2 separate regions of the Homo sapiens genome follow, and region 1 is linked to region 2. A link means that fine-mapping ties the variant in region 2 to the expression of a gene that starts in the linked region. Tissue or cell type: lymphoblastoid cells. Region 2 holds a variant in brackets; the other region holds the start of a gene. All regions are shown on one strand. Distances are between the middles of the regions.

The links. PIP is the estimated chance that this variant, and not a neighbour inherited with it, causes the effect.
Region 1: ANKRD44-AS1 starts here. The variant in region 2 is fine-mapped to the expression of ANKRD44-AS1 in lymphoblastoid cells (GEUVADIS, PIP 0.95).

What each region holds. Positions count from the first base shown.
Region 1 is chr2:197,194,907-197,203,093 of GRCh38, forward strand. ANKRD44-AS1 (ANKRD44 antisense RNA 1) reads left to right here and starts at 3,085. Exons shown (of 2, transcript NR_135584.1): 1 at 3,085-3,183; 2 at 4,012-4,367. All of the region lies in intron 1 of ANKRD44 (ankyrin repeat domain 44), which reads right to left. RefSeq lists an enhancer at 4,131-4,200.
Region 2 is chr2:197,915,214-197,923,400 of GRCh38, forward strand. The region is part of intron 1 of PLCL1 (phospholipase C like 1 (inactive)); the gene reads left to right. Among named protein-coding and RNA genes, the nearest start is that of PLCL1, 110 kb to the left of the region's middle. The variant GTC/G (reference allele first, on the strand shown) is at 3,723.

The DNA.
Region 1 (8,187 bases), 720 kb before region 2:
ATGAGACTGGGGACTGGAGAGTAAATCTTTCATGTTGGAAAATAATAGAAGATGAAGTTAGAAAAATGAATAACTGGGTGGGGGGAGCATCACATCAGCATAAGAAGCTTTAACCTAATCTTTTTGGTGCAATCATATAGCTCATTACCACCTCAAACTCTTGGGCTCAAGCGATGCTCCCACCTCAGCCTCCCAAGTAATTCAGACTATGGGCACAGGCCACTGTTAAACCTGGTGAATTTTTAATATTTTTTTGTGGAGACAGGGTCTCGCTATGTTGCCCAGGCTGCTCTTGAACCCCTGGCCTCAAGCAATTCTTCTGCCTCAGCCTCCCAAAGAGCTGGGATTACAGTCATGAGCACTGTACCCAGCCTTTACCTAATCTTATGGACAAACAGGAATGGGGGTCATGAGCAGGAGAAAGGAATAGAGTTTTCCCAAGAATTTAATCTGGCCAAAGTGTACACTGAGTACTGGAGAAGGAGAGATTGGAGTTAGAGGCCCAGTTAGAAGGCTGTTGCTACAATCCAAGCCATCACAGGAAAGAACTTTCCCATCTTTTTTTTAATCACAGTCTCCCCAGGTGCTACTTACAGGGATACGGTGAAAACAACAGATATAGTTTTTGGTTCTTTAATGTCTGCTCTATTCCTGGATGCAATTTTGGCCCAGCATCTTGGCCACTTTCCTTCACTCTTTATATATAGCCCAAATCCCTTGCCTCCGAAACACTAATGTTTCCAGGTGAAACTGAGGTTACTTCCTTTAGTTCTGGAACATTTCCATTTTTTCCCCCACAGAACCTCTGCGGATGTAAGCTCTGTTTTGTCAGACTTGTCACTTGATCGCTGAATTTAAATCATAACATTTCAAAAATAGGCCACATCCATAAAGAGAAAGGCAAATCAAAACAAGGCAGACAGCCTTTGCCAAGTGCCATATTTCTATCAGGATCTGCTGCCAACTACCCACAGATTTTTTCACTCTGTCTAGTTTCAAATGGCTTGAGATCAAACCTAAACTTTAGCTAAGATAATTAAATTGTGTTGGGGAGTTAACTTTTAAAGAAAGCTAATTTGGGCAAAAAGGACAATGGATCCAGGAGGTTAGTTCATACAGAACATTTAAATCCATGTAATTTTAGTGAAACAAAAAGAACAACTATATATACTTCTGCAACAGTTTCCTGTTTTGAAAAATTGGTATAGAGGTTTTATTTCTCATCTTGGCTTGGGTTACATTCTTTGTATAACTGTATCTTACTGCATATTGAATTCATGTAGTTGCAAACATGAGAGGTGGATTTAATAATGTTAATCAATATAAACCACTTTAGTGATCTTTGTGGGGAAAAAAGAAAAATGGCCAGAAGATGATTTTCAGGGTTGTAGGTATATTCAGTATAATTTATTTGTCTGTTCAAATAGAGACAGCAGTTCAGTTTTAGGGTGCACTGGAAAACATGACTTTTTATTACTACCTGGTATGTGCATCACTTATAAAAAAGACAACAATAAAAAAGTATTCCTTATAAAAAATAGCAGAAAATGATCCATAACTACAGAAGTATCTTCTTGTGGTCATGAGTAATTTTAATTTTTGAGAATCTCACAAATTGGAAGCTAAATAAAGCAATTCAAGTGTCCTTTAAAAACAACAACAAAATCAGCATGTAGAAATGAAAGGTACTCTCAGAAAGGTGGCAATCTCCTGCTACATTTGAGGAGGCTGGAACTACTGTATACAAGATATATGGATTAACTCAGTCACATTAAATCATTCATGATTTAGGCAACTCCAGATTGGGTTTGTCTAAAATCTGTTAGCACCTGGGTTCTTTCCAAACACCAGCAAGCAATTTTTACACAATCAGGTCTTTCCAAAGCCCATGACAATTTTCCTTTAAACCCTCTCCTTCCCTTCTACTGTTCTTTTCTTTGAATTCCACGTGCATTCTTGGAAAGACAGCAAGCAGTTAAACTCTCACCACCTCTCCACAGGTGAGGGACTAGGGACATGTGTAAAACGGAGTCACCTTCCTGTTCTGGCCATTGTCAATTTTTTTTTTCCTAAGGCATCTTGTTATAGCAACCATTCTAAAATTGTTATAGCAACCATTCTAAAATTTAAGGCAGTGGGTTGATCAGGACCTGAATTAGTTTCTGCCTGAGATGACTGGAAGGTCCCCTACTCCCTCCCCAGCCAGAAAAAGTCACATGGAATGAAAATCTATTAGAGAATCCCCTCAGTGTAGTCTTTCAGGAAGCATCTTCTCATTTCCCCATCCAAAATCATGGTAAGGACATCCAGTGACAGATGTCAAAGGGAAAGGATAAGGCAGCAGGAAGAGAGAGGAGCCTAAGAGACTGGAAAACATTCGATAATATAAAATGGGAAAATGGGAAATTCTGCAAAAAAAAAGAAGTCATATCATATTTCCTTTCACAGACACCAACCCAGTGCGTAGCTCCTTTATTTCTTTACACACTACCCCCTCCAACAGGGGATAAAAGATATGTTTTCTAAAACTTAATTTGGTACATTTCAGATAACCACATTCAATTCAACAAAGATGTATTAAGCATAAGACATTTACTGAGCATAAGAAATTCAGACACTGGAGGCCGGGCGCAGTAGCTCATGCTTGTAATCCCAACACTTTGGGAGACCAAGGCAGGCGGATCACTTGAATCCAGGAGTTCCAGACCAGCCTAGACACATGGTGAAACCACATCTCCACTAAAAATGCAAAAATTAGCTGGGCACGGTGGCGCACACCTGTAGTCCCAGCGACTCGGGAGGCTGAGGTGGGAGAACCAACTGAGCCCAGGAAATTGAGGCTGCAGTGAGCCATGCTCACACCATTGCACTCCAGCCTGGGTGACAGAGTGAAATCCTGTCTCAAAAAAAAAAAAAAAAAAAAAGAAAGAAAGAAACACAGAAAAAGAAAAAGAAAGAAAGAAATTCAGACACTGGAATGTCAGAGTCAGTCTCTCCCTTGATGAGGTTACCAAGGTGTAACAGGAAGTATACAAATACGCACAGCTAGAATGTAAGGCACAGGCCGCAGGAGAAGTGCATGGAGAAGGGAGAGAAATTGTACCTGGCCTCCTGAAAGACGCAGCCTCTGAAATGAATATTGAAGACTGGGGAGGATTTAAACAGGTAGAGACGGATGGAATGGTAAGGGACTTTCCCTTCTTCATATTCAGAAGGCTGTGAGCAGAAGCTAGGGAGCCTGAACATACACAGGGAACAGTTTCATTTGGCTGGAGGAGGGGAGAAGTGAGGTAAGCTGAGTAGTAGACAGGGATCCTATCATGGAAGGTCTTGAATACCAAGCTAAGAAATTTGAGCTCTCTTCTGTGGAACTGGGGGAGCAGTGGGTGGTTTTTGAGCAGGGGAGTGACCTAAGATTTGTGCTTTAGAACAATCACTCTAAAAATGGATTGTATGATGACCTGGAGGAAAAGGCTGGAGTGTCATAACAAGTTAGGAAACTGCAATAATAGTCTGCACAAAGGGCTCTGGGGATGGAGTACCGCTCAGTTGTCAGAGGAAGCATTCTTCTGGTGGTAATATGTGAATCTAAAAGGTAAATTTGACCGGGCATGGTGGCTCACGTCTGTAATCCCAGCACTTTGGGAGGCCGAGGCAGGTGGATCACCTGAGGCCAGGAGTTTGAGACCAGCCTGGCCAACATGGTGAAACCCCGTCTCTACTAAAAATACAAAAAATTAGCCAGGCATGGTGGCGTGCCCCTGTAATCCCAGCTACTCGGGAGGCTGAAGCAGGTGAATCGCTTGAGCCCGGGAGGTGGAGGTTGCAGTGAGCTGAAATCGTGCTACTGCACTCCAGCCTGGGCGACAGCAAGACTCCATCTCGAAAAATAAAAAATAAAATAAAATAAAATAAAATGTAAATCTAGCTCCACCTTTAATGTAGCAAGGGCTAGCCTCCTCAGGAGTGGCTGCCTACATTCAAAACGATTCTCACCAACTTCTTCCACAGGACACAGGGCTCGGGAGCAGCGCCAGCCCGACATCGGCGGAGGAGCACCGGAAGTTCTGCAGCACTGGCTTTCTTTGCTCTTCCACCTATGCAAGCTCCTTCTCTCTTGTGGCTTGCCGAGCCTGGTTAGCTCTGAGACCGGAAGTTCTGAAGTCAGCTGGCATCCTACATCTGTGCAACCTACTTCTCTCCCCATCCCACCACAGAAACCAGAGCCTCGAGGCTTTTGGCTTGGGTGCTGCCTTCACAGTTTAGGTTTTGGTAAGAAGAAAGCTTATCTTCATGTCATGAGAAAGAAAAAAAAATGTATCTTTACGTAACGAGCTGAAAGAACAAAACAAGTATACCTAAGCCAAGTACATGCTATCTTTATTTCTTTATTTCCACACTGAAATTTAGTCAGGGATAAAACTTACTTTTTTAATCACACGAAGTTTGAAAAATAGGAAGTACTATGGGAAACACCTAATGCATCAAAACCCCTGTGCATTTTATCTTTGTCTTATGTTTGCTGGATTTTAATCTTAGTAGGTTTCCTGTTGCAACAATACAAAAACAGATAAAGAAAAAACTTAATAACCTTTCCTACCACAAATGTGAACAGCCCGTGTTCTTGTTGGTAGGTACAGATACAGATATATGAGATTATCGTTATTTATTATCAGAAAATGGGATTTTACTATTTCCCACACACACACTTTTTTTGAGATGGGGGTCTTGCTATATTGTCCAGGGTGGTCTCAAATTCTTGGGTTCAAGCGATCCTCCCACCCAAGTATCTGTAATCCAAGTAGTCTGGATTACAGATGCATACCACCATGCCTGGCTTATTTCCCTCTCTTACAATTTGCAAAAATAATGATGTACTGAGGACATCCCCCAGGTCGATAGCTACAGGATTAAATCATTTCTCTTAATAACTATATATAATACTATTCCATTGTATGGATATGCCATAACATATTCAATTATTCCCCTTCGAATGGGCATTTGGGTTGTTTCTAGTTTGTACCACAACAAACAAGCCTCTATCAGTGCTTATCCACATTGCACAGAGAAGTGCTACCAGAGCCAAAAGCATTTTCTGAGTACCTACAATATGCTATTTTTATGAAATATACAAAAGAAATGTGTGACATAGTCCTTTCCTAAAAGACTGCCAAATATAGTTGGGGAAATAAGCCTAACCCACACAAAACACTTAAACTGTGTAAGACAGTACTGAACCATGTTCTACAGACCTCATGCAAATGGATGCCAAGTTGTCCTTCTGCACAATGACAGATTGGAGAGGTAATCTGGAGGTGCCTTTAGCCATAATATTCTAGGAGCCTTCTTGATTCAGAAAAGGGGAAGCATGAAAGGCTAAGAAGCCAGAGTGGTGTCTCTGGAGGAGGCAGGACTTGAACAAGGCCTGAACATGGTTTAGATGGAGGAAGGAAAAAAATGTATTTTGGAATGACAAATGAGGCAGGGCACAGCACTGACTTTAGACATGTATATGCTCAGGAGAATGTCCTGAGTTACAGCATTTCTAAACACCCTCTTCTCATACTCCTCCCACCACCACCACTCGCCAGACTCTGCTTAAAGATATAAAAAATTCCCAAGCTTGGCTGCTGCAGAACATCACACTAACACTAATTTAAAATGCACTACTTCCAGACAGCACGAGCTTGAAATTACCTCCAAATCTCTTCCTTCCCTGTCCTTCTCATGCCCTATGCTACCCCCTGCCAAAACACATACAACGCTTGCTGTGCCCTTCAAACAACAGTAGTCATTTAAGCTGCTCCTGCCCATCTGGAAAATAATATGAATAACATGAAAGAAAGCAATAATGAAGTGACTGGAATTTAGCAACCAAAAAGACCTCAGTTCTTTTGATAATCAAAAACTTTGTTAAAATGTTTACATCGACAGTCACTACAGTGTTGGTCTTTCACTCTATGTTGCAATAGTATGTTTGCAACTTCTCCAAATCCATTTAAATGAAAATATTTAATAACAAGTTTTAAATTTTATCAATTGTTAAATATGATTTGAAAGTTTAGTGTATGTCCTGATATATAGTATGCCTTGAGACTGAATATAAGTAGCTCTATGGGAAAATTCTGAAAATGAATTAGGAATAAGTAGATTAATGTGCTTTTAGTCTCAAAGACTAGAGATTAAAAAGGCATGGGTAATTTTTAACTGAGAGGTGGTGCCACAGAGAAGTCTATGATTCTCTCTTTTTCATTACCCATCCCAGTTTAAAATTAGCTTGCAGCATGTTTTTTAAACATTAGGAAAACAAGATGCACTCCCAGAATGTTCATGTGAAGGGCACGTGTGAAGACATAATCTTGACAGTCATATTACAGAAAATAAGGGAGTGAGTTACTGAGTTTTTAACAAGGAGAGTAAGTTACTGAGTTTAAATAAAACCTAATTTGCTGTGTGTTTTTATTTAGCAGAATTTTGAATGCCCGTTGCCTCCGTGGCACTAGGCAACCACAAAGGCAACTGAGGTCTGAGACAAGGCATCAGGGAGATAGGATCCTTTGGCCTCCTCTGGCCCAACTGACATAACTGAGGTTGGTTCCTTTCCTGGTATCCACACTCCCCTCTCCTCACCAACAATCCCCCTGACGTTGGCTCTGAATGATGTGGAGACCCTGTTAGTGTCGTCGCATGTTAAATCTAGATTTGGGAATCTGCACTGCACACCTTATGTCAAAACTCAGAGCTGTTGTTTTTATATTTTGTTTTTGTGTTTTGTGTTTTTATTTCAGATGCAGGGGATACATGTGCAGGTTTGTTACACAGGTATACTGTGTGATGCTAAGGTTTGGGCTTCTAATGATCCCATCGCCCAAGTAGTGAACATAGTGCCCCATAGGTAGTTTTTAATCTCTTGCCCTCCTCCCATCCTGCCCCCTTTTGGGATTCACAGTGTTTACTATTCCCATCTTTGTGTCCTTGTGTACCCAATGCTCAGCTCCCACTTGTAAGAACATTCATAGCCACTGTTACCTCATCACCATGTAACATTCCAAGGGTTTAAAATGCACAATACAATCATAGTTCTTTTGAGATCATGGTTGACTGTCCTGACAAAGGAGAACTTTTAGCTGCCCCTCCTCCACCCAGGGATAGAAGTGGACTTGGTGAAAGGCAGGTGGCCTGTGACAGCAGTGGCCTGCCCAGGCACGCAGAGGCTTGCTCTCACTTTTAGAGTACTTGGTACATTTGGCACTGTGCAGCAACTTTTTGCTTCTTGAATTGTGACCAATCAAAAATGATGAAACAAGGCCATTGAAGGGAGTGGAAAGAAATTAACTGATGCGCCAGGAGTCCTGGTCTACCCTTGATCAGTAGGTGTTACATAACGGAGGGCAAGTCACAGAGCAGGCAGAAACCTCTGTTTTCTTACCAGAAAAGATAGGTCCAAAATGATCGACTCCTCCAAGAACAATAAGGGAAAAGATGAGATTTCAGATGGAAAAAAAAAAAACCCAATAAGGGGTGGTCTAGGTGACTATAATCTCACTCTGCCAGAAGAGCTAGACGACCAAGCTTGATGCACACAGCAGGGGAAGTAGCAGGACCAAGCTGCTCAGAACTGGTCAGAGTAGTGGACAATTTCGTGCAGATCTTACAGGCCTCTTTTTTGTTTTTTGTTTGTTTTAAGATAGGGTCTTGCTCTGTCCCCCAGGCTGGAGTGCAGTGGCATAACCACAGTTCACTGCAAGCTCGACCTCCCTGGGGTCAGGTGAGCCTCCCCCATCAGCCTCCCAAATAGCTGGGACTACAGGTGTGCACCACCACACCCAGCTAATTTTTCTAAAAAATTTTTGTAGAGAGGGGGTCTCGTCATGTTGGACAGGCTGGTCTTGAACTCCTGGGCTCAAGTGATCCACCCGCCTTAGCCTCCTAAAGTGCTGGGATTACAGGTGTGAGCCACCACGCCTGGCCTTTTTTTTTTTTAAGACCTAAATGGATGCAGAAGAAATTTGGCTGATGTTTTTTGGCTGGATTGCATATCAAAATCCCCTGGGAAACTAGGTCCCACCCCAATAAGCCTGAGGTAGTGTTAGGGATGCAAATCCTAGCACAAGCGCTTGCAAAGGCTCTCCAGGTGACTCATACAGCTTCAACATACATGCAGCACTGAATCTGATTCTTCATCTC
Region 2 (8,187 bases):
TTGGAAACAGTAATGATTAACCTGATTAAAGCTGCTCTCAAGGATCAACCAGTAAAAGAAGTGATAGCGGTGTCAACAATACCACATAAAGTAGCAGGATTTGTATGTCAGCAGTCCCATTTTTCAAGATGCCAAGTCTAAATCTATTTCCTACCCATATTTAAATGAGGAGCCAGTTTTGGAGGAATTTTACTTGTCAAGTGTGAAAGAGAGGAAGAGTCAGAAGACACTCTTTCCAAGAATTCTGTGGATAAAAGGAGGGTTTTTTTTTTTAAACCAAACCTCAAAATTTTACTCTTCAGAAGGAGATTTTTTTTTTTTTTGAAGTCCGATGGCAGCAGGATGTGAGATTCCCAGTTCAGTGGTGCTGGGAGTTAAGCAGAAGAAGGTGGAGATCTTTCTTCTTCATAGCATGTGCTCCTTTCACAGAAGCAGCTTGTTAATCGTCAGGAAGGATTTCAGACAACCTAGTGATGATTTCCAGCTCAACTGCTTCCCTTCCATGAGGCACCGATACCCTATTTGTGTGTGATAAGGTGATGATTTCCCTTTCATCTCAAAGCTCTGACTCAAGTGGTTGGAGGGGCTTGGTGATGCGAAGGCTGAGAGAGATACAGAGATGAAGGATGATTTCTTTACCAATGACACTTCTTTAGGTATCTCAGTTGTTATTGTTTCTAGAATTAGTATAAGATTTTTCAGAGGACAATAGGAGAAATAGCTAAGTTAGCATCAGACAATATACCAGCTTTAGTTGCTATAACTAAGAGCCTGGTAGGCATATGTCTGTGATTGCTTGTGGTCATATTAGTGCTGCAACTTGGAGATGTTGAAACCTTCCTTTGTCCTAACCATTAAATTCTTGAGGCAAAGATTGCCTAATTCTTCTCTGTGTTTTACTTGGTAGGAGTACATTTTCAGCATTCAGATAACATTATTTTGACTACTTATCAGTAATTTGTTTCATTCCTTTTCCACAGATAATATTTGTTTTTGGTAGTTTCCAAAAATGACTGATTTGGTGTTTCAAGTATTTTTAAGCACTGGGAAAGAATATAAGTTGTTTTTAGCTTTTTATCTTTCTAGTTTCTAGGCAGTGTGGATATTCCATACTGGTTAAGATTATAGGCTCTGGACTTAAACTCTCTGGATTCAGTAGTGGCTCAGTTACTCACTAGCTGTAAACATGGGCAAGTTTCTTAATGTTCTCTAGTTTTCAGTTTTCTCATTTATAAAACAGAGATACTGATAGTATTTACATTTAGGGTTGTTGTGAGGAGGAAAGGGAATAATCCATGCTGTACACTTATATATGTACAATGCAGTCCATGCAATGGCACATAGTTAGCACTCAATATATATCATCATCATCATCATCTTCATTACCAGCAGCTGCAGCAGTTTAGAGACCAGGACAGAGTCATGGTTAAGAGAGCAGGCTTTCAGAGAAGGCCAATTCAAATTGCATACCAGATACTGCCCAAAAATAAGAGTGAAGGGAAAATCAAAGATGGACTCTGATGCCCGGTGCCCAGCAAAATGATGTAGGCTAAAAAGTTATTACCTGCTCAAATAAAAAATGGGCAAAAGAACTGAACAGATACCTCACTAAAAATATACATGATGACAAGCATATGGAAAGATGTCATTTTTGTCATTAGGGAATTGCAAATTAGACAAGATTAGGCATGTTCAAGGTAGTATGGCTGTAGATGAGAATTGCAAATTAAACAACAATAAGAAACCACTGTACACCTATTAGAATGGCAAAAATCCAAAAAAACTGACAATACCAATTGCTGGCAAGAATGCAGAGCAAAAGGAACCCTCATTCATTGCTTCTGGGAAAACAAAATGGAACAGCCACTTTAAAAGATAGTTTGACAGTTTCCTACAAAGCTAAATATAGTCTTATCACACCAGAAATTGTACTCCTAGTTATTTACCAAATGGATTTGAAAACTTGTCTACACAAAAACCTACATGTGAATGTTTTGACAGCTTTATTAATAATTTCTGAAAACTAGAAACAACAAAAATGTCCTTTAATAGGTGATTAGATAAATTGTGGTATATCATAAAATAAAATATTATTCATTGATAAACAGAAATAGCTATCAAGCCACAAAAAGAAATGGATGAATCTTAAATGCATATTGCTAAGTGAAAGGCTACATACTCTATGGTTCCAATTATATGATATTCTGGAAAAGTGACTGTAGTAATAGTAAAACTATTAGTGGTTGCTGGCAGAGGAAGCAGGGTTGAGTAGGTGAAGTACAGAGAATTTTTTAGGGTGGTGATGCTATTTTGTATGATATTGTAATTATGGATATATGATACTATGTATTTGTTAAAACCCATAGAACTTTATAGTACACAGAGTGAACCTTAATGTATGCAAATGAAAAAATAATTTAAGGGGTTGGGGGATCCTAGGATTGAATGCAGAATGTGACAAGACGATAAAAGGAACCAAGGAAAAGGAACCAAGGCTCCTTATGTAAGTGGATGATTCTAGGACTGGGCAGGAGATGTACGCGATGAACCTGTAGTATCTTGTAGTGCCATGAAGTAAGGAAGAGCTTAAAACAAAACAATAACAACAACAAACAAATCCACAAGAATGGGTTATATCAAAGGGACCCAGGAGCCAACTGAAAGAGCTTCCAATGGCCAACACTGGAACTGTTTGAGCAACAACATAAAGTAGTACTGGAACCTGCCCCACCGCCACCCCAAATAAAATAGATCCGTGAGTCCATACTGATATAAAGAGTACAGTGTGGAAAGGTGGGTTAAAGTAACTTTACAGTGGAGAAACCCAACAAAAACTAGCCAGGTGAGCAAGGTTAACCTCAACAGTGAGAAATCATTTGATAGTATATATTCTCTATACATACATATTTATCACTTGATATGATAAAAATGGCACCTTACCTCTGTTGTCTTCCTCCTCCAAACCCATAACCCCAGTCTGATCATGAGAAAAACATCAGATAAATCCCAGTTCAGGGACATGTTATATAATACTTGACCAGTACTCAAAACTAATAAGGTAATCAAAAACAGGAAAAGAATGAGAAACTATCACAGCCGAGAGGAGCCTAAGGCGGAGACATGTCAACTAACTGCAGTGTGGTTTCCTGGATGAGAGCCTGGAACAGAAAGAGGGCGTTAGGCAAAAACTAAGGAAATTAGAAGAAAATATGGATTTTAGTTAATATATCAGTAATAGTTCATTAACTATAAAAACATGTACCATAATATGTAAGATATAAATAGGAGAAACGGAGTATGGAGTATATAGGAACTCTCTGTACTATTTTCATTATTTTTCTACAGTCTGATACTGTTCTAAAAATTAAAGTTTATTATAAAAAATAATGGTCCATTTAAAAGAAGATTTTTAACAAGGGTAAAGTTGGCCAGGCACGGTGGCTCATGCCTGTAATCCCAGCACTTTGGGAGGTTGAGGCAGGCAGATAGCTTGAGCCCAGGAGTTTGAGACCAGCCTGAGCAACATGGCGAAACTCAATCTCTGCCAAAAAAATCCCAAAAAACAAAAAACGAAAAATTAACCAGGTGAGGTAGCATGCACCTGTAGTCCCAGCTACTAGGGGAGCCTGAGGTGGGAGGATCACTTGAGCTTAGGAGGTTGAGGCTGCAGTGAGCTGTGATTGCACCATTGCACTCCAGCCTGGGCAACAGACGGAGACCCT[GTC/G]TCTCTCTCTCTCTCTCTCTCTCTCTCTCTCCCTCACACACACACATACACACACAAAGTAAAATAATGACTCACATACAGATATAAAAATTATTATAGTGTTAAAAGATTTTACTTAATTCATAATGAAGGAACAAGGCAGATGCTACAACTAGTTTAAAGATAAATCCAAAGATCAGATATATTTATAGATCAAAAATATTGAAATGAACATGCAAATGGAGGCAAAACTAGCTTCTTTTGCTGGGAGGAAAGCAAGTCAGTTTAACCTCCACTGGACAGGACATAATGTGCATGTCTATAGACAAGAATTGTTTTGTATTGCAATCGGTTACCTATAATTTATAGAGTTGTAAGACAACACCCATAGGGTCAGAATCAGATACCCAGAAGGATGTTTTCTAGACAATGTATAGTTTTGTACTGAAGCACAAAGATTTTCTTACAGGGCATTTACCCACATGTCGTTTACTATCATGATGTTTTAACATAACTAAAAAAATCAAAATCAAGATAGTTATTGGAAGCTCCACCTCCTTGACAATTCTAATGATGTTCCTGTGTCTTCAAAACCCCCACTCATTGACTTCCTTTATAGTTGTCATTAGTTCTGCTCCAAAATATTTTGGCTGTCTGCCTTCCTAACACAGAGTAAGAATGCATTTCCTAGCCTCTTTGAAGTTAGGCATATGACTTGTAATCACCAATGATACAAGAGAGGAAGTGACTTATGTTCTATCCAGGAGGACATTTTAAGGGCTGGTACAAGGTTTGCTACATTTCCTTTTCCTGCCTGCATGAATGGGGAAATATGTGTCCAAATGGAGCTTCTGTATGCCTGATTCTCTGAGTGACTAAGAAGAGCAGAGCACTCTCCTGATGACCTGTGTTGACCTTGAAGCATGAATGAGAAATAAACTCATTGTATTAAGTCTCTGGAAGAAAATGACAAGTTCTTAGATTGCTTGGGTTTGAATCCTGGCTACACACCATTTACTAGTTGTGTGATCTTGGGCAACTTCCCTAACCTCTTTGTGCTTTGATTTCCTTATCTGGAAAATGAGGGTAATAATAATGCCTAGCCATAGGGTGGTCATGAAAATGAAATAAGATCATATATATTGTCTTCTGGCACAAAGTCAATAGCAACTGGGTTATTGTTTATCCATTGGTCTTTTTGACTCTGCAACTCAAAATTTATCAGTGGTCCGTCAAATTAAACTTTTGAATATGAAACATTAATCACAATGCTGTTCAGAATGGCACAGCTATTTCTGCAGGGGAGAGTGAAAGGGACAGCTGTTCCACAGACTGTCTCAGAATGCTCATTGGAAGACTTGTGTGTATCATCTTTCTCTCCAGTGCTTTTGATGTTGAGTGGTTTGTGAAACATGAAGAAACTGGACACTACCATGTAGCATGGGATGCTACATCAGTGACAAGCAGAGGACAGAGTGCCTGAGGAAGACTGAGATTTCTTTCTTGGAATTGGAAATTATTACTATTTTTCTAGCTCCTTTGAAATGGTAACTTCATATTTTGAAAAAATTATTAACCAAATGGCTGCTTCATTTTATTGTAACATTTCTGATGAGTGAAACAATTGAAATTAATGGAATGATTGCAAAATAGAGTAAGTATATAATAACATATGCAAAAGTACCTAAGGTTGCTTGCATAGGTTTATGCTGCTCAAATTATTATAGTTCTTACAGACAGTGTCTAGTGTAAAAAGATACACCTGCTGTGGTCTTGTGCCCTCTGAAGAATATATATAGAACTAAGGGTGAAATGACTTGGCATATTTTCTATAACTTTGTTGCAGCTGTTTTCCAAAAGTGGGCAAATATCCAGCATTATTTGCAAGCCAATGTAATGTTCTTTGCAAACCATGAAAGCCTTTCGTATTTTGATTTATGAGCAAGTTAATTTCCCAGCTCAATGAGAAAGGCCATGGAGATGAAATTGAATGTATACTTATGCCTTTAGTATCTAGTGATTGTACAGTCATGTGTCGCTAACGACAGGGCATTGTTAGGCGATTTTGTCATCATACAAACATCATAGAGTATACTCACATTGACAGACTTAGACGGTGTAGCCTATTACACACCTAGGCTACATGATACAACCTATTGCTCCTAGGCTACAAAGAATGCAGCATGTTACTGTACTAAATACTGTAGGCAATTATAACACAATGGTATTTGTGCATCTAAACATATCTAAAAATAGAAAAGGGACAGTAAAAAATACAGTATTATAATCTGTCATATATGAGGTTGGTTGTTGAACAAAGCGTTATGTGGTACATGACTGTATTTCTTCTGAAAATTTGGTTTATATTGAATGATAGCAAACCAGCATCTATCAGTTGCTGAGTGTTACTTATAATGGCATGGAACCTATGAAATAGGAAAACAAGAGGCACCTCTATTAATTAATAGGGGTCCTTTTCAAAGTTTCGGGTGAAAAATTACTGGTTGTGGTAAGAATGTATGCCTTGATTATAAATATTGGCGTGGAAAAATGTCCTCATACTTAATTCAGGCGGATATAAGCTTTTATAGTTGAATTAAATAAATGGATAAAAGTTCAAAAAATACAAATCAAATTTAAATAAATAAATAAATAAGCATTTCTTTACCTAATACTTGGAGAAACAAGCATACCTGTACTTACCCACCAAAATCTCTATTTTCATGACTTAATTTCTATGCACACTCCACTCTTGTTCCACCTCTGTACCTTTGATCACACCGTCTCTCTCACCTGACATACACTTCTTTGAGTTTAATGTACAACAGAAACTGCATATCTTTTCTGAAATATCAGAAAACTGAAATCCAGTTCACACTGTTATTTCTCTCATCAGAATTTTTACAACTCTTTTACTGGGTATCTCATAATATAACAGTCATGAAAACTTGTGTTATTATCTTTATATTTAATGTTTCTATATTTTCTCCTTTTGTATTTGGGTGGTGTTAGTGAAGGAAAGTGCCCTATCTAGCAGAATTCTAGGTACAGATAGAGACAAGTGCAGGTTGATTGATAAATTCTTTTTTTTTTTTTTTTTTAAATTTATTTTTTTATTGATAATTCTTGGGTGTTTCTCACAGAGGGGGATTTGGCAGGGTCATGGGACAATAGTGGAGGGAAGGTCAGCAGATAAACAAGTGAACAAAGGTCTCTGGTTTTCCTAGGCAGAGGACCCTGCGGCCTTCCGCAGTGTTTGTGTCCCTGATTACTTGAGATTAGGGATTGGTGATGACTCTTAACGAGCATGCTGCCTTCAAGCATCTGTTTAACAAAGCACATCTTGCACCGCCCTTAATCCATTTAACCCTGAGTGGACACAGCACATGTTTCAGAGAGCACAGGGTTGGGGGTAAGGTCACAGATCAACAGGATCCCAAGGCAGAAGAATTTTTCTTAGTGCAGAACAAAATGAAAAGTCTCCCATGTCTACTTCTTTCTACACAGACACGGCAACCATCCGATTTCTCAATCTTTTCCCCACCTTTCCCGCCTTTCTATTCCACAAAGCCGCCATTGTCATCCTGGCCCGTTCTCAATGAGCTGTTGGGCACACCTCCCAGACGGGGTGGTGGCCGGGCAGAGGGGCTCCTTACTTCCCAGTAGGGGCAGCCGGGCAGAGGCGCCCCTCACCTCCCGGACGGGGCGGCTGGCCGGGCAGGGGGCTGACCCCCCCACCCCCCCACCTCCCTCCCGGACGGGGCGGCTGGCTGGGCAGAGGGGCTCCTCACTTCCCAGTAGGGGCGGCCGGGCAGAGGCGCCCCTCACCTCCCGGACGGGGTGGCTGGCCGGGCAGGGGGCTGACCCCCCCACCTCCCTCCCGGACGGGGCGGCTGGCCGGGCAGAGGGGCTCCTCACTTCCCAGTAGGGGCGGCCGGGCAGAGGCGCCCCTCACCTCCCAGACGGGGCGGCTGGCCGGGCGGGGGGCTGACCCCCCCACCTCCCTCCCAGATGGGGCGGCTGGCCGGGCGGGGGGCTGACCCCCCCACCTCCCTCCCGGACCGGGCGGCTGGCCGGGCAGAGGGGCTCCTCACTTCCCAGTAGGGGCGGCCGGGCAGAGGCGCCCCTCACCTCCCAGACGGGGCGGCTGGCCGGGCGGAGGGCTGACCCCCCCACCTCCCTACCGGACGGGGCGGCTGGCCAGGCTGAGGGGCTCCTCACTTCCCAGTAGGGGCGGCCGGGCAGAGGCGCCCCTCACCTCCCGGACGGGGCGGCTGGCCGGGCGGGGGGCTGACCCCCCACCTCCCTCCCGGATGGGGCGGCTGGCCGGGCGGGGGGCTGACCCCCCCCACCTCCCTCCCGGACGGGGTGGCTGCCGGGCGGAGACGCTCCTCACTTCCCAGATGGGGTGGCTGCCGGGTGGAGAGGCTCCTCACTTCTCAGACGGGGCAGCTGCCGGTCGGAGGGTCTCCTCACTTCTCAGA